2 separate regions of the Homo sapiens genome follow, and region 1 is linked to region 2. The links come from fine-mapping of genetic effects on gene expression. Tissue or cell type: whole blood. Region 2 holds a variant in brackets; the other region holds the start of a gene. All regions are shown on one strand. Distances are from middle to middle.

Evidence for each region. PIP is the estimated chance that this variant, and not a neighbour inherited with it, causes the effect.
Region 1: CMPK2 starts here. The variant in region 2 is the best candidate, but not a certain one, in a credible set for the expression of CMPK2 in whole blood (TOPMed, PIP 0.58).

Annotation. Positions count from the first base shown.
Region 1 is chr2:6,864,615-6,867,525 of GRCh38, forward strand. CMPK2 (cytidine/uridine monophosphate kinase 2) reads right to left here and starts at 1,293. Exons shown (of 5, transcript NM_207315.4): 1 at 408-1,293. The coding sequence starts at 1,082. It also overlaps a transcript of RSAD2 not described here. RefSeq lists silencers at 604-1,043, 1,284-1,553 and an enhancer at 1,064-1,283.
Region 2 is chr2:6,835,113-6,838,023 of GRCh38, forward strand. All of the region lies in intron 1 of NRIR (negative regulator of interferon response), which reads right to left. Among named protein-coding and RNA genes, the nearest start is that of NRIR, 3.9 kb to the right of the region's middle. The variant T/C (reference allele first, on the strand shown) is at 1,151.

The DNA.
Region 1 (2,911 bases), 30 kb after region 2:
TTAAGTCTAAATTTCTTAAACCCCCTAAACTCATGCATTTTCTTTTTCACCCCAAGATCCTTGAATGGTGATCATCAGCAAATAAAATTACTTCCCAGCTGACATTATTTTCCCTCACTCCCGGCAGCCCCTTTACTCCCTCTGTACTGCTGTTGGGATGCTTTTACAGCAAGCATCGCGTGGCTTGGTGTAGGTCTATGTTCCACGTCAGGTTGGAAGATCCTTGCAAACAAGAATCTTAAAAGAGTTGCCTGGCATACAGGACACCTTCCCTACCTGATTTGTGAACGGAAATAAACAAACCACCCAGGCAAGAACCGGCTCTACAGACCAGCCTCTTGGTCCAGTTCTCTGGTCTGAAGGGTTCAGATGCCACGCTGGGAGCTGGAAGCGGACAGAACTCTTACCTCCTCCAAAACGGCCCGGGCGGCTTCCCGGTCCGGGAAGACCACGGAACTGGGCAAGTCTGGCACCACCGGGTGCAGCGGGGGCTCCGGGACGGGCACGACCTGTGCGCAGCCCACCTGCAGCCGCCTGCCGTCTTGCACCTCCCAGAGGCGCTGCCACAGCTGGCCGCGCGGGTCGGCCTCGAACTCGCCCAAGTGCGGGCGTGGTGCCTCCTGACAGGCGCCCAGCAGCTCGAGCAGCGCTTGCCGGGTGTCAGGGTCATCCAGGGGGTCGCGCAGCAGGAAGCCTTGCTGTGCGCCGCCGGCCTGGCCGCCCGGGCAGTAGCAGAGCAGCCTGAGCAGCTGGCACCGCTGGAAGGGGCCGCGGCGCAGCTGGTGCAGCAGGCGCTGGTGCAGCCGCGCCGCCCGGACCCGGGCCCCGCAGCCGGCGTCCGGGGTCACGGGCACGCACAGCGAGTAGCTGCGCTCCGGGGGCCCCAGCAGCGCCGCCAGGCGGGGGTCGGGGGCGTCTGCGTCGCCGGGGGCGTCGGCGCCTAGGGCGAAGTGAGCCAGGGTGCAGTCGGGAAGCTCCAGGACGAAGCGGCGCGGCGGAGCCATGGCCCCAGCGCAGACCCCGCGCCGCCCGAGCAGCGGCCCCGACAGTGGCCCGCGCAGGAGCCGGCGGGCGAAGGCCATGGGCGCCTCAGCGACGCCGCCCTCGGCCCCGCCTCGGAAACGAAACCTGGCGGGAGCCAGGCGCCGGCGGGAAACGAAACCCGGAGGGAGCCAGGCGCCAGCGGGAAACGAAAGCGAAGCGTTGCGGGGAAACGAAAGCCGGAGGCCCAGGCGGGGCAGGAGCCCTGGGGCTGGGGCGCCCTTCCGGCCTCTCCTCCTCGCCGCGAGATGTGCGCGATAAACGGCCGGCGCTCGGGAGCAGACGCTTGGCCCCGGGGCCCCAGGTGCGCGGCTCCGCGGGCCTGCGCGGTCCCCAGGCGCCGGCTCCCGGGGCTGACACCGAATGAGGCCCCGCGCCGTCGGCCCCAAGGTAGCTCCGTGTGCGTTCTGCGGGTGGCTGGCGGCCCCGACCCTGGTTTGAGTTCCTCCTCTGCGGCTTATGCCGGGTGCATGGAGGGGGGCGGGGGTGCACGCGCGAGGGACAGAGAAGTCCCTTCCCGGTGTAACGGGCTCTTCAACGCCCACTTGCAGGCGCACTACTGCCCTTGGATGACTGACCAGGCCCTGCAGACCATGGGCTCCCTCCCCGACCTCAACTCCTAGCTCTGACCACGCGTCCCCGCCCCTCTAATCCTGCAGAGCTGCTTTCCTGCGGGAACAGGGCGCAGTTCTGGCTCTTCCCTCTCCTGTATCTTATCTCACCTGTGCACTCACTCACCTGTGCACACACTCACCTTTGCACACACTCACCTGTGCACAAGCTTTTCCCTCTTCTTGGAATTGCCCTCTCCCTTTTGCTGACTCTCCAACTGGGAAGTGTCGCCCAGATTGGCACCTCGAAATCGCCTTTCTTCCACCAAATTGAAGTTTCCTGCACTAAGGTGAAGTGTGTCAGGATAGCACCCTCTGCCTGCCACAGTCCAGCATCAGCACTGTTGCTGCCTAACAGTGTAACTGCCTAACAGTGTAACAGTGTTTGCGCAGTTATTTGGATATTTTATTCTGTGTTTACTCATTAACTGATGCCTTTTAAAAATGATGTCAAGCAAACCAAAAACAAACAAAAAGATAATATTCTCCAGGGAAACTCTCTCAAAAAAATAGAATTGAGACGAAGATTGAAAACATTAGATGAGCTGAAAGCAGTTTTTTTTTTATGTCTTAATAGTATTGGACTTAAACTTGGGATTATATTTAATTCTGAAAAAAAAAGTCTTAACAAACGTGAAATATAGATAGGTGGTTGGAGTGTGGGTTAATAGGCTAAGAAGAAAGAAGAATTAGGAGTTTAAAATTTTTTAGCTCTTTGAGAATAGAATAGTTTTTATTCTTTCTCAGGAATTTCACTTTTGGACATTTAGCATGTACCGGTGGTTTCACGTGTATGTAGTATATGGAAGTAAGAGTCTTCTAGTTACTCCCTTTTCTTCTCTAAGACAGTACTGCATCCTCAAGCCTGCTTGACCTTTTCCCTATGCCATCCACCTCTCTGGATGTATTAGTCTATCCTGGCTGCCATAACAAAATACCACGGACTGGGCCGCCTAAACAATAGAAAATTTGTTTTCTCAAAGTTCAGGTGGCCAGAGAAGCTGGAGATCAAGTTGCCAGCAGGGTTTGCTTTTTCTGAGGCCTCTCTTTCTAGCGTGCAGACCGCCTCCTTCTCTCTGTGTTCTCACGGGACCTTTCCTTTGTGCTTGCATCCTTGGCGTCTCCTTGAAGTTCCAAATTTCCTCTTCTGGGAAGGACACCAGTCAGATTGGGTTAGGGCCCATCATAATGTTCTCATTTTAATGTAATCACCTATTGAAAGCCTTATTTTGAAATACAGTCATACTGTGAGGCACTGG
Region 2 (2,911 bases):
ATTGGATATTGTGTATATTACATGGTGGAGACTCTGGATTCTGTTATAGTCCTCTAAAAAGAATTGAGTTCTAGAGGGCAATTAGCTTCATTTGACAAGAACTGCACACCTTCTTTTGGATGTCAGCTCAAATCTCATACAAATATTTTAACTTTTGGTGAAGTCTATCCTGCACATCTATGATTTGTGAATTAGCCAGAGATTTGGGCAGAGTATATACTCAAAATTTAGGGTTTCCCCCTTTTGGCTATCTTTTTTGCAAGATTGTCCTTCATTTCCCAGTGGTCTCATTTCATAACAGAAAGACCCTTATGTCTTTTCTATCAGGGTTTAGTCACCAAGGTGGAGCTGACATGGGCCTATCATTAGAATAAAAACCTAAGACATTCCTTTCTTCCAAGTTTCAAGTCCACTCTAAAATCTTCCTCTCTTCTTTACATTGCCTGCAGAACATTTTTTTCTCCAGAGTTGACAGTTGTTTTCCACAGGAAGTACAGCTATGATAAGAGCTTACTTAGTCATACCAGGTGCAGAAACAACATGGCATTGAGCAGAAGACACTGTAGCTGAGGAATTACATCTGTTTCTAAATTATATAATGACATATTTGAACCCAGATAAAAGGAGGGAAAAATATGACTCAGAGAACAAATTGCCATGAAGTCAACTTTTCAATCTGAGTTTGTTCATATCTTTTCTGCTTCTGTACAAGTGATTAATGCACTCTATATCTCAAAATTCAGTGGTGAAAATGAATACTGACTTAACATTGGCAAGAATCAAGAAACTCCATTTGGGATCCCATCAGAAAAAGAAAGACATATATTTCAGGGCCTTCTGAAGACCTGGTCTGTTTTCTAAGATAATTTAAACTGTCACTTACAAAGTTGTATATAACAAAAATAAATTTGAAGGATGTCTGCCCATTTCTCAAAGCCAAGCTCCATTCCCTTCCCTATAAATTTTTTTCTAATGTGTGCTTATATCAATATTAACTCATTTCACAACTGCCTATGCCATACCCAATAGTCCTTTGTTATATATTTACTTTTCTATTTGAGAATAATAAAGTTAGAAAGTAAGAGATCAGTTATACAAACTCACCATAAATGAGCACATTAAGTATATGTTAAGATATAACATTATTTTC[T/C]CTGAGAGAGAGAGAGAGAGGGACTACCAAATCACCATACCTTGAACAAGATAGAGATGAATGTTCCTTTCCCGTAACAGTTCAAGGTAAGCAGCAAGGGCAGGTGAGCTGACTCTACCATCTCAACCTATAACTTCCCTCTCACAGTCAAAGTGACTTCTTCAATTCTTATTATCTTCCAATGAGCAGAAAGGCAGAAAAGGACTATGGGATCTGAGCACAACCCTCTGTGAGAGCAAAAACAGTCCTGAAGAGGTACATATTTATCTGCTCACACCCCATTGGCTAGACCATACTTCAGTGGCACATATGGTTGCAAGACAGTCCAAGAAATGCAGTCATAATCTAGAAAGTCATGCATCCAGCTAAAATTCTGTCACCAAGAATAAGTGGTAAGTAGATACTGTGGGACAAACAGCATTATGTCACTCTCTAAATACATGAAATTTATGAGGACTAAATCCTGACATATTCTTGACTCCTTAAATTTGCAAATACCTCTCTCCCATATAATATATACCTTAAAATGCACATTGAACAAGAGATAATCACAGAATTGCACTGACATTGTGGTGCTAGGCTCAGCTGGCCCAGCCCTTTCCACAAAGGAGTGGTTAGCTATTTTCCATGTCTGCCTCACAGACTGTGATTTAACTTCATGCTTTGGAAAATGGTGTGTTAGTAGCTGGCCATGTGCCTTCAACTTGCTTAGGAATATTTGAAACTATGTAAGTGGATCAGTGCCTGATCCCAACTGTTCATTGGATCAAATGGAAAACACACACACACACACACACACACACACACATCATTCCTGAACAGTCTGACTTAATGGATCTGTAGCAGGGTCATGGCATCCCTTGTTGTAAAACTTGCACAGGTGATTCTAATGTATAACCAGAGTTGGGAACCACTGAGCTAAGACATTCAAACTCCACGTTGGCTGTGGGAGACATCAAAAAGCATTGGGCATGTCTCCTGGCTTCAAAAATATTTTAAACTGATTCATTGTCCATATCACATAATTCGTACTTTATTATATATTCTAATCCTCTAGTGTAACTTATGTCTAGACTATAACTTTGAGAATTAAACAAGAAACATGAATTGACTGTCATCTTTGTACCTGGCACTTTCAGGGTATGACAACTTTTACATAGGAAAGCGTCAAGGTTCCTTCTCTCAAGGCACCCTAGTCTAGCAGATAGAAAGAAAACTCCACAGGATCTAGTCTGTTAAGCTCTAAGCAATCAATCAATAATTGCATATAATTGATTTCAGTATTTTCTTTAATATGCTTAGTATTTGATATCTCATGGGTTCTTTTTATTTTTTATCTTATTTTATTTGAGATGGAATCTTGCTCTGTTGCCCACGCTGGAGTGCAGTGGCACCATCTCAGCTCACTGCAACCTCCACCTTCCGGGTTCAGGCAATTCTCCTGCCTCAGCCTCCCAAGTATTTGGGACTACAGGTCGAACTCCTGACCTCAAGTGATCCACCCACCTCGGCCCCCCAAAGTGCTGGGATTACAGACGTGAGCCACTACACCCAGCCTCATGGGTTCCTTTTAAATAGTTTTAGTACTGGCTGGGCACAATGGCTCACACCTGTAATCCCAGCACTTTGGGAGGCTGAGGTGGAAGGATTGCTTGAGCCAAGGAGTTCAAGACCAGCCTGGGCAATAAGGTGAAACTCCATCTCTATAGAAAACATAAAAATTAGCCGGGCATGGTGGTGCATGCCTGTAATCCCAGCTAA